Regions from separate parts of the Homo sapiens genome. Here region 1 is linked to region 2. The links come from fine-mapping of genetic effects on plasma protein levels. Region 2 holds a variant in brackets. A gene starts in the other region. All regions are shown on their forward strands. Region 1 holds the start of C1QTNF1 (C1q and TNF related 1). Region 2 overlaps HGFAC (HGF activator).

The links. PIP is the posterior inclusion probability: the model's chance that the variant is causal. The UK Biobank Pharma Proteomics Project read protein levels with antibody pairs (Olink). The fine-mapping took linkage between variants from a reference panel, not from the people measured, so its PIPs are less certain.
Region 1: C1QTNF1 starts here. The variant in region 2 is fine-mapped to the plasma level of the C1QTNF1 protein (UK Biobank, PIP above 0.99).

Annotation. Positions count from the first base shown.
Region 1 is chr17:79,015,897-79,025,873 of GRCh38, forward strand. It overlaps C1QTNF1 (C1q and TNF related 1), which reads left to right and starts at 8,273. Exons shown (of 4, transcript NM_030968.5): 1 at 8,273-8,598. C1QTNF1-AS1 (C1QTNF1 antisense RNA 1) reads right to left here. Exons shown (of 3, transcript NR_040019.1): 2 at 4,110-4,340; 3 at 3,313-3,720. RefSeq lists a silencer at 8,605-8,694.
Region 2 is chr4:3,448,502-3,458,328 of GRCh38, forward strand. HGFAC (HGF activator) reads left to right here. Exons shown (of 14, transcript NM_001528.4): 14 at 736-985. The coding sequence ends at 918. Among named protein-coding and RNA genes, the nearest start is that of DOK7, 9.9 kb to the right of the region's middle. RefSeq lists an enhancer at 554-1,357. The variant G/A (reference allele first, on the strand shown) is at 881.

The sequences.
Region 1 (9,977 bases), not on the chromosome of region 2:
TGAACTCTTTACAGCTTTTAACAGTTGAGTAAAATACACTCCTGTAAACAAAATTTGGAGCATATTTCTTTCTCTCTACCTGATTTCTCCAAAAATTGAAAACTATTTGTGAGTATTCTTAACTTATGGCTATATATTAATAGTTATTTGCATAAGTGCAGTAAGAATCTGTTTTCTTTTGTAACAGGACACAATTGGAGAAATTGGGTTTTACTAAGGCTTTGAATGGAATGGCGTGCTTTCAAATATAAAAAAAACTGCCTTAAGGAATCAAAGTTGACTTATAGAGCTAATAAAAGGCCCTTGGAAAAACTGGCTTTATACCTTGTCTATGCAGTCCCTGTACAGGGTTCCTGCCATGTGGTAAGTAAAGAATGTCACTTTGTGACAGGTTCAGGAGCCCTAAGTTATATTGGGACTTTGAGACGAGAGAAATTTACCTAACTCATACAGGTATTTGAAGGCATAAACCCATGGCTGGGCAAGGCTTTAAAAAGTCAAATATAAGATTCCTTATGGAACAAGATTCCATCAAAGCCATTTTTTTGTAAAAAGAGCCTATATGGTGAATAATTATTCTTACTGCACTTCATGCAAATGATCATGCCAAGTATAATAAGACTAAGGTTTATTTTTCAAACAAATAAGTCCTACCATTATTTGTTTTTAATAAAAATGGGGACTGGAGAGAGAAAAATTAGGTTTCAAAAACTATGGTACACCTGTTATTAGATTCTAGTCTCATTCATTGTTTTTTTTTTTTTTTTCTGCAGTCTAGACTGACCCTGCTTATTTCTGTGAACCAACCAGTGATCTCTGGCCATGGCTCAGAACAAATAATAGGGATGGGTAACATAAGAAATATCTGGATCAGTATTCTAATTCAGGGCACATATTGGAATCTGTTAGCAACCCCATATCAGCTTAGTTCCAACAGTTGCCCAGTTGATGGAATGCCTTATTTAATTTATTTGGGATAAAGTATTAATCCATTCTCACACTGCTATAGAGAAATACCCAAGACTGGGTAACTTATAAAGCAACAAGATTTAATGGCTCACGGTTCTGCAGGCTGTACAGGAAGCATGGCAGCATCTGCTTCTGGGGAGGCCTCAGGGAGCTTTTAGTCATGGCCTAAGGCAAAGGGGGAGAGGCCTCTTACATGACAGGAGCAGGAGAAAGAGAGAGAGCGAGGAGGTACCATACACTTTTAAACAACCAGATCTCACGAGAACTCACCCACTATCATGACCAAGGGGGATGGGGCCAAACCATTCATGAGAAACTGCCCCAGTGATCCAGTCACCTCCCATCAGGCCCTACCTCCAACTTTGGGGACTATAATCGGACATGAGATTTGGTGGGGACACAGATGCAAACCATATCAGATAATTTTACTTATTTTGCTTTACTATTGTGGAATATATTCCTGTTGTACTCGTTGTGTAGGAATGCAGAATAAGCTTACTCGCCGTTTTCTTAAATTGAACATTTGCCAGTCTTCCAGATATCACCTTTTGTTGGAACTCAGAGTTATGAATGGCCGTCAGTATGCTGATGCTTTCTGACTGAGTTCCTCTCTACCCTGAATACAAAAGACCTTAATAGTTAGATGAGAATATCATTACTCCTATTTAGCCTGAAGAAGCTACAGAAGGGGAATCTTCCTACCTCTACAACCCTTAGGATTAGTGGTCCTCTTGTAAAAAGGAGGGGGGAAATATGTCAGAGGCATTGGAAGCAGAGCAACTTTAACTTGAATAGGGGCTGGGTAAAATGATGCTGAGACCTGCTGGGCCACATTCCTGGGAGGTTAAGGCATTTTAACCTCCCGGGATCTGAGATGAGATAGGAGGTCACAAGATACAGGCCACAATGACCCTGCTCATATAACAGGATGCAGTATAAAGGCTGGCCAAAACCTGCCAAAACCAAGATGGCAACAAAAGTGACCTCTAGTTGTCCCAACTGCTCATTATATGCTAATTATAATACATTAGCATGCTAAAAAAACACTCCCACCAGCACCGTGGCAGTTTACAAAGGCCATGGGAACGTCTGGAAGTTACCCTGTATGGCCTATGACGGGGAGAAACCCTCAATTACAAGAAATTCTTGCCCCTTTCCCAGAAAGCTCATGAATAATCCACCCCTTGTTTAGCATATGATCAAGACATAACCATAAAAATAGCCAACCAGCAGCCTTTGGGGGTGCTCTGCCTATGGAATAGCCATTTTTCTTTTCTTTTCTTTCTTTTTTTTTTTTTTTTTTTTGGCACAGTGTTGCTCTATTGCCCAGGTTGGAGTGCAATGGCGCAATCTTGGCTCTCTGCAACCTCCATCTCCCACGTTCAAGTGATTCTCATGCCACAGCCTTCTGAGTAGCTGGGATTACAGGCATGCTACTTGAACAGGGGCTGGGTAAAATAAGGCTGAGACCTGCTGGGCTGTATTCCTGGGAGGTTAGGCAGGAATAGGGGTAAATAGGGGTAATTATATTTTTAGTAGAGATGGGGGTTCACCATGTTGGCCAGGGTGGTCTTGAACTGATCTCAGGTGGTCTGCCTGTCTCGGCCTTCTGAAGTGTTGGCATTACAGGCATGAGCCACTGCGTCCGGCCTCCTTTACTCTCTTGATAAACTTGCTTGTATTTTACCCTGTGGACTTATCCCAAATTCTTTCTTGCTCAAGATCAAAGAACCCTCTCTTGGGGTCTGGTTTGGGACCCTTTCCAGTAACAGCTCCACAGACATCATCAGATGGCTTAATTTTGCCAATCTGATGGTAATCAGTGTCTTCTCCTTGCCTGATTACTGTGAGGTTGTATATCTTTTCTTACACTTTTTGGCTGTTTACGTTTCTTTTTCTGTGGATTCCCCATCATCTTGTGTGTTTTTAGGAATTGATCCATCCCATCCCCATTGATATACGTGCAATGCCAATTTTGTCATAGATCAAGTTTTCATACACACATGGGTCTTTGTCGGGTGGGCCTTCTATCATGTTGAACTAATATACTTGATCACATCTGTTCCAATACCAGTATCTTCATTATTATGTCTTTATAATAAGCCTTCCTATGATGTAGGACAAGTCCCCTCCTACCTCACCCACCTTCAACCTTCTGGGATTTTGAATGGAATTGCTTGGAATCTATAGCTTAATTGAGCGAGAACTGAGTTTTTTTTTTTTTTTAATGATATTGAGTCTTCTATCTAAGACCACGCTTTGCTTTTCCATTTCTTTGGATTTTCTTTAGTGCTTTTCAGTAAGGGTTTGTAATTTTCACTTCACAATATAGCTTGGAGATTGTTCCAGATCACATATAGAGAGCTGTTTATTCTCTAAAGAGCTACACGGTGTTCCACTGTGTGGAATTTATTTTACCAGGCCCCTAATGATGTCCTTTGAGGGTATCTGTGCTTTTTTTATACTACGGCAATGCTTCAGAGGATATCCTTGAACTTACTTATTTGAGCACCCTTCTAAGTTTATCTGTAGGAGAAACTCCTAGAAGAAAGATTAGGGGGTCAAAGGGTATTTGCATTCTGTGAGCGAACACACCCTCCCTTCCAGAGAGGCTGTACCATAAAATCACTTTCCTTAAGGTCAACAAATACAATCAGGCTTTCATTGGATTTTCATTCTCCTTGTCTTCTTTGCATCCTCAGAGACTTCACCATAGACTCCTTTTGGAAATTCTCTTTAGTTTCTGTGGCTCTGCATAAAGGACAAGACATTCTTTATTGAATCATTCATTCATATGTTGACATGCATTTACTCACTCATTTCATAGTTAAGTGCTTGGAACTGGGGAGTCCACCAGGGGGCCCTCCCATCTTATTTATCAAGTAAAATATTGCCTAGTCGATCAGTATATGCCTGTCTCCATGTAACTGAAAACATTCATTGCCAAAACAGGAGAGTAAATATTCAGAGGTGAGGAAACTGAGGCATAGGGAAATTAAATGGCTTGATAGAGTTGCAAGGCACACGTGTACATGGCCTCAGGGGAGACTTCTGTGGAAAGGCATGGCTTCCTGGAAGAGGGAACGCCCTTACCCTCCTGGTTTTCTGCAGGTGTGAGGACCATAAAGAAACCTATTCACCTGGTGTGTCCTTGCAGCTGCCAGTCCTGATCTCCACCTGTCCCAAGCTGCTCAGAACGTGGCAGCGCCATCCAGGAGCCACGAGCATGGGCCAGTGGCCAGGGAGGCTGGATCTGTCTGCCAAGTTTCCACTTTTCCATCTTAGCAGCTTCTCCGAAGCTCTGTGGAGACTCTCCCCACTCCCACCCCTTGGCAGTGGGACGTCACCATCGGAGCCGGCCGGTCGCTACCCTTGGGAACAGAATTCAAAGTTTGCAATACCAATCTCTGCCCTTGTGGGATGACTGGGCAGCCCGACCCAAAATAGCTGGGAAAGGCGGGATGTTAGGGCCGCGGTGGGAAAACTCACAGTGCTGCTAATGACATGCTGTGCTTATCTGGAACCGAGTGTCTTGCAGACTTTAACTGAGATCACATTGCTTTTTCCAGCAATAAGTAAACAGACCCAGCGAGTGGTGGTGACAGGCCCAGGGAGAGAGAAAGAATTACCAAATCAGGGAGGGCACAGAACGTGCTGCCTTCCCTGCCAGGGGTTCCAGGAAATATTTCTTCCCATTCTAGGATCTACCCTTGACTAAGAATATGGGATGATTTGGGAATATTCAGGAAGCCTTTAGGGGTTTTGACCCAGACACCTTGTGTAGATGTGAGCTCCTAGGGAGTTTTAGGATGGGTTTGTGGGGGCTAAGAGAGAGACCTTGGGGAGGGGACTCAGTCTTTCTGGAAGTTGGCTTTGACTTCTGACCCATAATCTCAGGGCTGATGAAATCCCCCAGGCACTGTGGCTGATTTTTATTTTTGATTTCTGTTGTTGTTGCCCAACAGGAAAGGATTTTGCCAAAGGGAAAACACTCTGCCTCTTGTTGCTTGGGGGCACCTAAGGCTGAGAAGGAAGAAAATCAGCCACTCTGCAAGGACATCCCTTGCTTGCCAAAGTTTCCATCTTTCCTACTTAAAATTACAAAGCAGAAGTGAAGTTGATGACAAAGAGCATTAGGAACCTGGCATGCTCTCTATTTTGGATTTTTTTTTTCACTTTATTGAGGACAAGCTTGTATTCTCTGGGAGCTGGCCTTGTGAGTCTTTGCCCATTGCCTGCTGCCTTGAGTTGTGAGCCATGATGGTGGCACCTAAGACATGTGCTCAGACCTCAACTCCTATTCTTTGGAAGTTCCCATGCCTCCGAGCCTTGGGTCTCACACAAGATCTTGGGAAACCCCAGGCTCTCTTTGTTACCGTTTGATACCACTCCTCCCTATCCCCAGTTTCTGCCTCAAGGAAAATGAGTAATCCCTTTTCTAATCTCCTCCTTCCCTCCTCTTCCCAAGAGGATGGAAGGAAGATTATACTTGTAATAATGGTAGTTGCAATGAACAATGTGTCTGTTCCACCAACCTTTTTATTAATCATGTGAGAAGCTACAGGTTCACAATCACTTCTCCAAAATCCCTGAAATGCAAAAAATCTGAAACCTTAGTTTTTCCCTAAAGTTGGCACACACAAATTTGACAGAACAATGTGGCTTGAACTATCCTGAGACTATGGATGCCTTCATCCCACTGCCGAATATTCAAGTGTTTAACGAAGGGGCGCTGCCCGAAGCCCACTGGGTAAGATGCTTTGTGGGATATTTGCATCTGACTCTGAACATATCTGACCTCCTTGGTTCCAGATAAGAGACCCTGGACCTATCTCTGCTTTGTAGATAAGGAAGCTAAGGCCCACTGAAGTTTGGTAGCATCCCCAGGCTGCCTCAAGGTAGGACAGAGCCGGGACAAGACCTCCTAGTAGGATGAGCCAGGTGCACCTGGAAGAGATGACCAGCCTTCAGCTGTCTTTCTAGAACTTTGCACTATATTGGGCCTCTGAGTTCTGTCTTGGAATTGTGTTAAAGATAACTGTTTTCCAGTTCTTCAACACCAAAGCCATCTTGGATGGGGTAAAGAGAAAGAATAAATATTCCATCATCCACAACTTTTTTTTTTTTTTTTGAGATGGGGGTCTTGCTCTGTTGCCCAGGCTGGAATGCAATGCCATGATTAGGGCTCACTGCAGCCTTGACCTCCTGGGCTCAAGGGATCCTCTCACCTCAGCCTCCTGAGTAGCTGGGATTACAGGTGTGTGCTGCCAAGCCCAGCTAATTGTTTTATATTTTGTAGAGACAAGGTCTCACTATGTTGCCCAGGCTGGTTTTAAACTCCTGGGCTCAAGTGATCCTCCCGCCTCAGCCTCCCAAAGTGCTGGGATTAAAGGTGTGAGCCACCACACCCAGCCCATCATCTGCATCTCTTTCTCTTTCAAGCTGTGTGTCCCGCTTTGTGAATTCTGGTATCTGCCCACGACTTTCCTGAGTCTGAGGCTCCCAGGCAGGGCAACAAGAAGCCTTCTCATTGCACTGAGGGATTTCCTAGCTCGTAAGAGTTCTAGAAAGTCCCAGATTCTCTGAAGTATGGACGAAGGTCTCATAAGGGCTGCAAAAAATGCTGTTGTTTTCTCTGGTATCCCTGCACCAAGGGCTATTTGAGGACAGAGTAACTAAGGAAAGGTCAGTCCGTGTGCTAAGCCTTGCTCCTGGTGACTGGGAAACTTCCTCATGTCACTTACAGGAATGGAGACAAGCTTATCTCTGGCTTTTCCTGTATCAATAAGCAACCAGGGATGTAGGTTTTGCCAAGCCTCAGACACGTATGCCAAGAACACAAGCAACCCCTGATCTTCTAAGCCTAGCGGAGGCTGCATCTCTAGTTGGTTAAGTAGTGTTGACTTCATATCCCCATCGTGTCCTCTGAGTTCCCCCTGGGTGCTGGAGGCCTGGCAGCCTTTCTCCCTGTACTCACAGGAGGGGTTGACGCATGCAGTCAGGGCCTCTGTGGAGTGGCTTTTGGGCGCCTCGCCTGCCCGGAAGCCTCCCCTTCTGTTCTCATCTCCATTTGTCCTCAGCTCTACCTGAGTGCTGGCCTCGCCCAGCCTGGGGCAAGGCAGTGGGCATTGTGCTTGCACCCTCTTCTTCCTCTCCTTTTTGATTCTTTTCATCTGTCCAGTTGTTGGTGCGGCGGATGGGAGGACACTCCAGGCAGGGAAAGGTGAGGCCTCTTAGTTTTGCTCTGAATGTCCCAACCAGCATCCCCATTTTCGCATCTCCTGTTTGTCCAGAGACAGACCCTCACAGGAGGGATAACAAAACAAAAAAATCCAGCTGCAACATCGAGGTGAGGGGCAGCTCGGAGAGAACAGGGCAGAGGGGGGAAAAAAGAAGCAAAAAAAGGGGGAATGCTGTTATCATCAGAGCTGGCTTCTGCTTCTCTGGCCAAATCCTTCCCCTGCTAGTGATATGGTAAGTTTCCAGAGCAAGCTGGGCTGACGCAGAGTCTAGGGATGGAGACTGGGTCCCAACCAGGGCCGGCTCTGGAGCAGCCTGGATCAGGGATCAGGATGGGAGGGCAGCCTACGGGCCTTGTTCAGAAAAAATATTTGTGTATGACTGAGAAAATGTCAGGTTTTCATATCAAGGAATGAGAGGCCTGATAGAGACTGAGGAGTGCTTCCAGCCATCCTGGGCTCACCACTGTACTCGTGCTGTTCTCTAGAAAATGGAAATCTTCCCGGCAGGGGCTCCTTCCTAACCTTTAGATCACAGAGCTCTCAAGACTCTGAACAAAACAGTGGACCATCACCTTCCAAAGGTGATGCGCGCGCGCGCACACACACACACACACACACACACACACACACAGTTTGGCATTTTGTTATAGGGGGTTCACAGATTCCCCCAAACCTGTCTGAGTCCCCGATAATGCACAGGGCGTCTCAGGTCTGCCACTGTTTGGAGACCTGACCCCTCAGGGTTGGCCACAGCGGATCCCGGAGGCCTTGGGGCTCATCCCTCTGCTACCAAGTGACTAGGAGCGCTCAGCCTTGCTGGGCACCCCCATCCTGCGGGGGGCATTCTCGTCCGGGGCTCGCAGCCCCTCCGCCTCTGGACGGACCTCCAGACTCACGGAATCTGCCCCACCCCCACTCTCAGCCTGGCGGGCTCCCCAGGGGGCCGGGAGGAGGCGGCCGCTGGATTTCCCTGAGGCGCGGCGCGGGGCACACACGGTTAATCCTCCGCGGCTGCTGTTTGGACGAAAAGCGCTGGGGGTGTTGGAGGCTCCTCGCTGCTCACATCTGGCTGGGCTTCGCTCCTTGCGCGTCTGTCCCACTTTCTCCCTCTCTTCCTTTACTTTCGAGAAACCGCGCTTCCGCTTCTGGTCGCAGAGACCTCGGAGACCGCGCCGGGGAGACGGAGGTGCTGTGGGTGGGGGGGACCTGTGGCTGCTCGTACCGCCCCCCACCCTCCTCTTCTGCACTGCCGTCCTCCGGAAGACCTTTTCCCCTGCTCTGTTTCCTTCACCGAGTCTGTGCATCGCCCCGGACCTGGCCGGGAGGAGGCTTGGCCGGCGGGAGATGCTCTAGGGGCGGCGCGGGAGGAGCGGCCGGCGGGACGGAGGTAGGTGGCCGGGCCGGGGGACCCAGCGCTGCCCCGCCCCATCCTCGTGGCTTCAGCCTGGTGGCCAGGGCGGGGATGGCAGACACCTGGGCCGGGACGGACGGAGAGCGCCGTGGGAGGGGCCGGTTGGCGGTGGCGGCGCAGGGGCGGAAAGACCCGGGTTTTCGGGGGCAGCCCTGGCGTCTGGCTCTGGCTCAGCCCCCGCCATAGGCGCCTTTGCGCGGGGGTCATAATGGTCCCGGGTCTCCCTGACTGTGGAGGAGCGGGGCTTTTCTGCACGTGGATACTAACGGGAGGAATTGCACCTTCCCCCTAGTTTTTTGTGGGGTGTTTATCTTGTTTCACTGTTCTCTGGTGCCTTTCTGAGGGTGTGGAAGGAAGAGGAATGGTACTAATGCCCGCGGCTGCACCTGGCGGGGATGCCCTCACCCCACTCCTTATCACTGGGACCACCTGACCGCCGGGTCTGTCCAGTCCTGTCTGTGGCCAACCTGGACCTTCACGGAATAGGAAGCGCTGACTTTGGCCCCCCGCATCTGACAGCCTTGGTGTCCTGGAGGGGGTCCAGCTTGGGCAGGAAAAAACGGTGTTGCTTCCCCGGGGCCCTCCTGGGAAGCGAAGCTGCCTGTGCCGCTGGGAGTGGCCCCCCCGGCCTGGGGCTGGAGCCTCTGAGCCGCCCTGGGGCTTCTGGACCTCGCAGGTGGACCCACCGCCCACCACCCAGCCCTCCATGGCTTCTCCACCGGTGCAGGTGTGGTCCCCACTGTTAGCCCGGGCCTCGCGGGGCCAATACCCGGGCCACACTCTTCCAGCCCCAGAAAGCCAGATTATCTTCTCTGGACCCTCCGCGTGCTTCAGGCACCCTTGGGCCGACTCATCCCTGCTTGGGAGGGAGGGAGGAAGCCGCCCCCCTCTGTGAGGTGTTCCTGACTCTTCTACCCCACCTAGTTTCTAGGAAAGGAGGCAACATGACGTGCTGGGAGCTTTCTGGTCCTGAGCTTTGAACATGAGAAATGCCGTGAGAAACTGTTTTCTCCACCGCTGGCCACTTCACAGCCCCAGGGGAGCATGTGATGTCCTTACAGGCTGCCCGGCCTCTGCTTTTTATAGTGCAGGAAAGTACACACTCCCTGGCAGGCCGTGCAGCCATGAACAGCCACAGATAGACGCACTTGGCTGTGGTGTGTGCTGCAGGGAGCGGGAGGACATGGGAGGACGTGCTCCAGGAGGCCTCTCCAGCACCTGCCAACCGGGGAGGAGGGAACCAAGACAGGGAGATGGGAGCCGAGGTCTGAGGACAAGCAGAAGCTTCCCCACCCTCCCTCTTAGAGCTGCAGAGCTGGAGAGGCCCCTAGAGTCCACCCAACAACAACAGTGGC
Region 2 (9,827 bases):
CAGGCTCTGAGAGGGGCCTGGGGTCCCACAGAGCCCGGACAGTTCCTGGCTGTCCAGCCCAAGGCAGTGCTTTCCGTGTGACACTAGGCACCAAAGGCCCCTTTGCCCCGAGTTCTCTCAAGCCAGCTCTTCAACCTTCAATAAGTTCTTCAACCTTCAATAAGCCCAACAGCCCAACCACGTCCTGGGCTCTGCAGGCCTGTGTGCTCAGGCGGCACGGCAACCCTGGCATGCGACGGCTCTCTTATGCCCCATTTTATAGCTGGGGAGACTGAGCCCCAGGCAGTCAATTCACTCTTCCAAGGCCACAAAGCCCAGGAGTGGTAGAGTGGGTAGGGCTTGTCACTGGACCTCGATAAGGGAAGTCAGGATGGTTTCCTGGAGGAGGGAGTGTTTGCACTGGTCCTGAGTGATGCGTAGGAGTTTTCCAGGGAGTGAAGAAGTCATTTCAGGAGGTGCTGGGACACAGGGTGGCTGTGTGGTCCACACAGGGTTCATGCTGGTGGGGAGAGGGGGACCGTGGCTTCAGGAAGGGGAATAACGTGGTTGGATGCCCTGGCCCAGCCAGTGCTGCCCCCAGGGAATGAGACACCTTTTCATGAGGTTCAGGAGAGTGGATCAGCTCCCTTGCTCAGAAATGCCTTTGTCCTCTGTCCCCAAGCTGCCACTTGGGGGAGAGGGGGGTCCCTGAACCAGGCCCCTGGGAGGGTGGCTCTGACCAACGTCTCTGCCCAGGGGGACTCAGGGGGGCCCCTGGCCTGCGAGAAGAACGGCGTGGCTTACCTCTACGGCATCATCAGCTGGGGTGACGGCTGCGGGCGGCTCCACAAGCCGGGGGTCTACACCCGCGTGGCCAACTATGTGGACTGGATCAACGACC[G/A]GATACGGCCTCCCAGGCGGCTTGTGGCTCCCTCCTGACCCTCCAGCGGGACACCCTGGTTCCCACCATTCCCTGCCTTGCTGACAATAAAGATATTTCCAAGAACCCGGCCCACGCTGCCTGGCCCCTGCCTGCGGCCCCGCCTTCCCCTCCAGGCCATGACTGGGGCCCAGGTCTATGCGCAGCAGGCCTCAGGCTGCCGTTCTGGAGCGCACACAGTCCTCAGTGGAGACGGAGCCTGTGGCCCCACAGCGGGGTCTGGCCCCACGGCCCAGAGAGTTGTCAGGGGATGAGGTCTGGGCCTCTCCAGGCCCCAGCAGAGTCCAGCCCCCTCCCAGGCCAGCCCCAGGCCGGGGCTCAGCACCTGGGTTGTCCCAGGGCAGGAAGTGGAAACCAAGTCCAGGCCCCCAGGCGTGGAGGGGTCCGATCCGCGTGGTGCACGGAGTATTGAACCTGAAGAAGAAAGAGCGGCCCCACGGGAACACCCGCAGGCCGTCGTTGGTCTTCCAGATGGCAGCCCGCCTGCCTGAGCCTGGGCTGCACTTCCCGGGAGGGAGGAGGCCACAGGCTGCCTCTGTGGGGGCTGAGGGAGGGAGGGGCCCATGTGCTAGATGGGGCCCAGTTAGAGGGTCACTGCTGGGCAGGCAGAGGCCGTACCCTCCCTCCAGCCAGGGAGGACAGGAGACAGGGGGAGGTGGGGCCAGAGGGCAGAGAGGGCGGGAGTGTGGCTGGTGGGGGTCAGGCCTCCTCCCTGCTTCGAGGCACCCAGGACCTTCTCTCCTGCGCCCCACCTCCTTCCTGGCGTCCTGGTCTCGGGGAGGCAGTGGTTTGCAGTTACAGCTGTTCCCTTTCGTCGGGAGCCCCTTCCCCAGCAGATTGGCGCCGCCCCAGGCTGTACGGAGGCTGGGAGGGCAGGAAATGGGGCATTGGGGCCACACAGTTACCGCCCCAAGCAAAGCCGGGTTCTGAGCAAAGAGGGAAGAGAGACATGGCCAGGCCCTTCTCCCCACGGCCCCTGCTGCTGTGCATGGGCCTCAGAGCCTTCGAGCTCACGGAACGAACTTGCCACTGAAGACCCCTGCCCCTGCCACAGTGTTGGTGCAGCCTGGGCAGTGGCTGGGGGACTGAGTCTGGCACCTGTGCCCCAGGATCCTGAGAGTGGAGCCGCTCTTCCTCCTGAGTGTGGGGGCCTCCAGCAGCTGGTTCTGGGGCTCTGAACCTCATGGCTTCAGCCCCGCTTCACCCACATCCGATGTGAGCCGTCCCTGACCCTTCCGCCATGAGCGGTGAGCATTTTCACATGCTTCCTCAGCCTCTGTTGAGATAAATGTACACATTTTCCCTTTGGCTTCACTAACATGATGACTTCCATGATAGGTTTCCTTCCTCCCTCCCTCCCTCCCTCCCTTCTTCCTTCCTTCCTCCCTCCCTTCTTCCTTCTTTCCTTCCTTTTCTTCCTTCCTTTCTTCTTCTTTCTCTCTCTCTTTTTCTCTCTTTTTTCTTTTTTCTTCTTCTTTCTTTCTTCTTTCTCTCTCTCTCTCTCTTTCTTTCTTTTCTTCATTTTTTTTCTTTCTTTCTGAGACAGGGTCTCACTCTGCCACCCAGCCTGGAGTGCAGTGGCGCGATCTTGGCTTACCACAACCTCTGCCTCCCAGGCTCAAGTGATTCTTCTGCCTCATCCTCCCGAGTAGCTGGGATTACAGGTGCCTGCCACCACGCCCGGCTAATTTTTGTATTTTTAGTAGAGATGGGGTTTCACCACGTTGCCCAGGCTGGTCTTGAACTCCTGACTTCAAATGATCCGCCCAACTCGGCCACCCAAAGTGCTGGGATTACAGGCGTGAGTCACTGCGCCCGGCACATGATAGGTTTTCTAACTCAGGTTGGCCTTGTATTCCTCGAGTGGACGGTATTGAGCTGAAGTGTGAGCTGGGGTCTTCCCTTTGCCCCTCCCACTTGTGCCCTGCTTGTTCCCGTCGTGCTCTGCCGCGGGAGGCTGGCCTCTCTGGTCTGCAATGGGCTGTGCACTCTCTTGTTTCTTGTTGGGCTATTGGGAGATCAGAGGCAGGGGAGAGAGACTGGGCATGTATTTTCCTGGCTCCCTTTCTTTGGGGTCAGTCACCTCAGTGTTTCAGGTGGAATTATGTCCTTCTAGAATTCATATGATGACTGGGCGCAGTGGCTCACACCTGTCATCCCAGCACTTTGGGAGGCCCAGGTGGGAATTCAAGACCAGCCTGGGCAACAGGATGAAACCCAGTCTCTACAAAAAAATTAGCCGGGCATGGTGGCATGCACCTGTAGTCTCAGCTACTCAGGAGGCTGAAGGGGAAGGATCACCTCCACCAGGAGGTGGAGGTTGCAGTGAGCCATGATCACGCCACTGCACTCCAGCCTGGGTACAGAGCAGGATCCTGTTTTAATAAATTAATTAATTCATATGTTGAAGTCCTAACCCCTAATAGCCCAGCATGTGACTGTATTTGGAGATAGAATGTTTAAAAAGGCAATCAAGTTCAAATTAGGTTATTAGGATGGGCACTAACTCAATATGACTGGTGTCCTAATGAGAAGAGAAAATTTGGACTATCCACCTGAAATAATCAAAAGGATCAGAATCCAGTTTAAAAGAGCATATGCAGGCACGAAGCTGAAAATAGCCACTCAGGACACACAGACTCCAGAGGATTAGAGCCAGTACCCCAAAGCCAAAAAGTGAAGGTCTTGCTTATACAGGCAGAAAATAAACAAATTGAACAGGGTTACAGTGCTTCCCATGCAAGGCTGGTTTATGAGTCACAGCAATTTGATTAATCACAGCTTGTTTTCTTTTCCTTTTCCAATTTGAAAGAGCCTATTGAACGTTCTGTCTTAGACAACGTGGTGGCCAGTGAGGTCTCTGTGTAAGAGAAGTCAGAGGGGAGCAAATCTACAGTGAAGATCAACATGAAGAGGGAAGGGGTCTTCCCTGGTGTCCTGTAGTCTTTTATAACATTTTACAGAACAATGTAGGTAAAGAAAAAGCTAATCTATAATCAGAGGAACAAAGGTTACAGCTGCCTAAGCTACAGCTGACCGTCATACGCAACTCAGGTCCTATAATCATGTTCCTTGAAGATGCAAAATAATTTAAAGTTCCAACAACTTTGGTTTTGAATGGCTTCTTTTTACAGGACGCAGACATGTACAGTAGGAGGGCGATGGGAGACACCTGGAGAGAAGATGGCCGTCCACAAACCAGGGCCAGAGGCCTAGAGCAGGTGCCCCCTGCTGGACTCCAAGGGAGCCAAGCCTGCTGCCCCCTGGGTTTTGGACTTCTGGCTTCCAGAACTGCAAGGTGATAAGCTTCTCTTGTCGAAGGCACCCAATCTGTGGCAGTTTATTATGGTCCCCGTAGCAAACAAATACCCTCAGGTTGGCTGCATCCTGGGACTGAAGGTCAGCGCTGCTCTCAAGATGTAAAAGACTTTCTCCTTCTGAGGCTCCGGGGTCCACTCCTGCCATTGCCAGCATTCTAGAACTGGTGTGGCCCCTCCACCTTAACCAGCCCTGGGCTCTGGAGTTTCTGACTGTGATTGTCCACATTTTGACCACAACTTTGTATATAAAAACCCTCCTTGAACTGTTCCACTGTGTGTGCCCGCCTATTGGGACCCTGACTGATACATGCTGTATTGGTTTTTAAAAACTTTTTAAAATTTATATTTTATTTAGGATTTTGCATGTATGTTTATGAGATTGGCCTATAATTTTCCTTTCCTATATTCTCTGAATGACTGTTATCAAGGCTATCCCAGCCTCATAAAATAAGTTCTTCTTTTATCAAAATTCACTGGAAAATTCTGTATATAGTTGGAAGGATCTATCCTTTGAAAGTTAAATGGAATTCACCCATAAAATTACCTGTCTTGGTGTTTTCTTTACAGGATTGTATTTAACTACTGATTCAATGTCTTTAATAGTTATGGGACTAGTTTTATTTCTTCTTGAGTCAGTTACAGGAAGTTATGCTTTTATAAATTTATCTGTCACCCAGGTGTGGTGGCTTATGCCTGTAATGCCAGCACTTTGGGAGGCCGAGGCGGGTGGATCACAAGGTTAGGAGTTTGAGACCAGCCTGGCCAACATGGTGAAACCCCATCTCTACTAAAAATACAAAAATTAGCTGGGTGTGGTGGCAGGTGTCTGTAATCCCAGCTACTCAGGAGGCTGAGGCAAGAGAATTGCTTGAACCTGGGAGGTGGAGATTGCAGTGGGCTGAGATCCTGTCACTGCATTCCAGGCTGGGTGACAAAGCAAGACTCTGTCTCACAGAAAAAAAAAATTCATCTGTCTAATTTTTTATATTCATTGACACAAAGTTGTTCCTGGTTGTGATGGTTAATATGAAGTGTCAACTTGACTGGGTCGAAGGATATAAATTATTGTTTCTGAGTGTATCTGGGTGTTTCTGGGTGTTGCCAGAAGAGATTAACAATTGAGTCAGTGGACTGGGGAGAGGAAGACCCACTCTCGGGAAGTTCCACTGTGATGTTTAATACTGAGTGTCAACTTGATTGGATTGAAGCATACAAAGTATTGATCCTTGGTATGTCTGTTAGAGTGTGGCCAGAAGAGATTAACATTTGAGTCATTTGGCTGGGGAAGGCATATCCACCCTTTATCTGGGTGGGTACCATCTAATCAGCTGCCAGTGTGGCTAGAATATAAGCAGACACAAAAACGAAAAGACTAGACTGGCCTAGCCTCCCAGCCTACATCTTTCTCCTGTGCTGGCTGCTTTCTGCCCTTGTACATTGGACTTCAAGTTCTTCAGTTTTTGGACTCAGACTGGCTTTCTTTGCTCCTCAGCTTGCAGATAGCCTATTGCGGGACCTTGCAATCACGTGAGTTAATACTTCATAAACTCCCCTTTATATATGTCTATCTATCTTATTAGTTCTGTCCCTCTAGAGAGCCCTAATACAGATTTTGGTACCAGGAGTGGTTCTAGAAGAATAGAATATTAAGGATGGACTTCTTTTGTTGGTTTTGGGATTTCTGGAGTTGCCTGCTTAATATGATTAGACCCAAAAATTCTAAGGACTCTACTTCTAATGGCATGGAGAACACCGATAGTCCTTGGCATGAACTATTTAGAGAGCTATGCAAATTAAATGCATTTGACACTCTTGATTCACTGCTCATGAGAGGCAGGGAGTTTAGTGACTCTATACATAATACCTTTGACCACATGTGGAGAACCAAAGAGCTAATGAAGCTGGTTGGTTGCTCCTAAAGTTCGGTGGACAAAGTGATGAAAGAAAATGATGAACTCAGGGATTCTAACTCTCAGCTTCAGAAGCAGATACTGAGCCTCAAATCTTCTAAGATTGCCCTCATTGAGAGTCTTATCTCCTTTAGAGAAAGAGCTGAAATCGTGGAAAAACAGACACAAGCTCTTACCATGCGAGTGACTGACCTGCAATGAAAGGTACGTGCACAGCCTCGCCAGGTGTCTACTGTTAAAGTGAGGGCACTGATTGGAAAAGAATAGGACCCTGCAACTTGGAATGGGGATGTGTGGGAGGACCCTGATGAAGCTGGGGACACTGAGTTTGTAAACTCTGATGAACATTTTTCACCAGAAGGAAGAGCTTCCCCATCCCCAGTAGTGGCAACATTCCCTCCCTAACCCATGCTGCCATCAGCCTTTCCACCTTTGTCTGAGGAGATAAATCCTGCACTGCCTGAGGCAACAGTGATGGCCTCCCATGAGGCAGTTGCCAGACAAGATAATGTTGATTCTCCTGAGGAGCCAACCCTAACACCCCTGTTTGTTTCTCAACCTATAACTAGACTAAAGTCCCAGTGGGCGCCTAGAGGTGAGGTTGAGAGTGTGACCCATAAGGAGGTGTGCTACACTTGAAAATAAGCATTTGAATTCTCTAATTGATATAAACAGAAATCTGGAGAACAGGCATGGGAATGGATATTAAGGGTGTGGGATAATGGTGGAAGGAACATAGAGTTGGATCGGGCTGGATTTATTGATTTGGGCCCACTAAGCAGGGACTCTGCATTTAATGTCACAGCTCAGGAGTTCAAAAAGGTTCTAATAGTTTATTTGCTTGGTTGGCTGAAATATGGATTAAAAGATGGCCCACTGTGAGCAAGTTGGAAATGCCTGATCTCCCTTGGCTTAATGTAGAGGAAGGGATCCAAAGGCTTAGGGAGATTGAGGTGGTGGAGTGGATTAGTCACTTTAGACCTACTCATCCCAGCTGGGAGGGTCCAGAAGATATACCCTTGACCAATGCCTTGCGAAATAGATTTTTGAGGGCAGCACCTGCGTCTTTGAAGGGCCCTGTAATTGCTCTTCTCTGTATGTCAGATCTAACAGTGGGAACCACAGTCACTCAACTACAAAATTTAAATATGATTTAATGGGATGATGGGAATAACTGGATCCTGAGGTGGCAGGGGCCAAGTGGCGGCACTCAACCATCAAAGGCAAGGTGGGCACAGCTACCATAATGGACAGCAGAGGCAAAGTGGCAATCAGAATAGTCTGACTTGTGTAGAGCTCTGGCATTGGCTAATTAATCACAGTGTTCCTAAAAAGTGAAATTGACAGGAAGCCTACTGCAATCCTGCTTAATTTATATAAGCAGAAAACTTCTAGGGCGAATGGACAAAAGACTAATATGAATTATAAAAACAGAGAATCACAGCCCCTCAATCAATTTCCAGACTTGAGACAGTTTACAGACCCAGAACCCCTTGAATGAAGGGGAGGCTGGGTCCCCTTGAGGAAGGACTCCACTACACTACTGACAATTTATGCTGTTAATCTTTCTTTCTTTCTTTTTTTTTTTTTTTGAGACAGAGTCTTGCTCTGTCACCTAGGCTGGAGTGCAGTGGTGCAATCTCGGCTCACTGCAAGCTCCGCCTCCCGGGTTCACGCCATTCTCCTGCCTCAACCTCCCAAGTAGCTGGGATTACAGGCGCCTGCCACCACACCCAGCTAATTTTTTCTATTTTTAGTAGAGATGGGGTTTCACCTTGTTAGTCTGGATGGTCTCGATCTCCTGACCTCATGATCCACCCACCTCGGCCTCCCAAAGTGCTGGGATTACAGGCGTGAGCCACCGCACCCGGCCTATGCTGTTAATCTTTCTCCCATCCTTCCCCAAGGAGACCTCCAGCCTTATACCAGGGTAACTATGTTGGGGAAAGGGAAATGATCAGACATTTTGGGGACTACTGGACACTGGCTCTAAGATGACATTGATTCCAGGAGACCCAAAACGTCATTGTGGTCCTCCAGTTAAAGTAGGCGCTTATGGAGGTCAGGTAATTAATGGAGTTTTAGCTCAGGTCTGACTTTCAGTGGGTCCAGTGGGTCCCCGGGCTCATCCTGTGGTCATTTCCCCAGTGCCAGAATGCGTAATTGGTATAGACATACTTAGCAGCAGGCAGAACCCCCACATTAGCTCCCTGACAGGTAGAGTGAGGGTTATTATGGTGGGGAAGGCCAAATGGAAGCCATTAGAGCTGCCTCTACCTACAAAAAGAGTAAATCAAAAACAATATCACATCCCTGGAGGGTCTGCAGAGATTAGTGCCACCATCAAGGACTTGAAAGACGCAGGGGTGGTGATTCCCACCACATCCCCACTCAACTCTCCCATTTGGCCTGTGCAGAAGACAGATGGATCTTGGGGAATGACAGTGGATTACCGTAAGCTTAAGCAAGTGGTCACTCCAGTTGCAGCTGCTGTACCAGATGTGGTTTCATTGCTTGAGCAAATTAACACATCTCCTGGTACCTGGTATGCAGCCATTGTCTTGGCAAATGCCTTTTTCTCCATTCCTGTCCATAAGGCCCACCAGAAGCAATTTGCCTTCAGCTGGCAAAGGCAGCAATATACCTTTACTGTCCTCCCTCAGGGGTATATCAACTCTCCGGCTTTGTGTCATAATCTTATTCGGAGAGACCTTGATCGCTTTTCGCTTCTGCAAGATATCACACTGGTTCATTACATTGATGACATTACAGTGACTGGATTCAGTGAGCAAGAAGTAGCAAACACACTGGACTTATTGGTGAGACGTTTGTGTGCCAGAGGATGGGAAATAAATCCGACTAAAATTCAGGGACCTTCTACATCAACAACATTTCTAGGGGTCCAGTGGTTTGGGGCCTGTCGAGATATTCCTAAGGTGAAGGATAAGTTGCTGCATTTGGACCCTCTTACAACCAAGAAAGAGGCACAATGCTTAGTGGGCCTATATGGATTTTGGAGGTAACACAGTCCTCATTTGGGTGTGTTACTCTGGTACATTTACCGAGTGACCTGAAAGGCTGCCAGCTTTGGGTGGGGTCCAGAACAGGAGAAGGCTCTGCAACAGGTCCAGGCTGCTGTGCAAGCTGCTCTGCCACTTGGGCCATATGACCCAAGAGATCCAATGGTGCTTGAGGTGTCAGTGGCACATAGGGATGCTGTTTGGAGTCTCTGGCAGGCCCCCATAGGTGAATCACAGCACAGACCTCTCAGATTTTGGGGCAAGGCCCTGCCATCTTCCGCAGATAACTACTCTCCTTTTGAAAGACAGCTCTTGGCCTGTTACTGGGCTTTGGTGGAAACTGAACATTTGACTATGGGTCATCAAGTCACCATGCAACCTGAACTGCCCGTCATGAACGGGTGCTTTCCAACCCGTCTAGCCATAAAGTGGGTCATGCACAGCAGCATTCCGTCATCAAAGAGAAGTGGTATATATGTGACTGGGCTCAAGCAGATCCTGAAGGCACAAGTAAGTTTTACATGAGGAAGTGGCTCAAATGCCCATGGTCTCCACTCCTGCCACCCTGCCTCCTCTCCCCCAGCCTGCACCAATGGCCTCATGGGGAGTTCCCTGTGATCATTTGCCGCGGTTTGCCATGGTTACTACGGGACTGAAC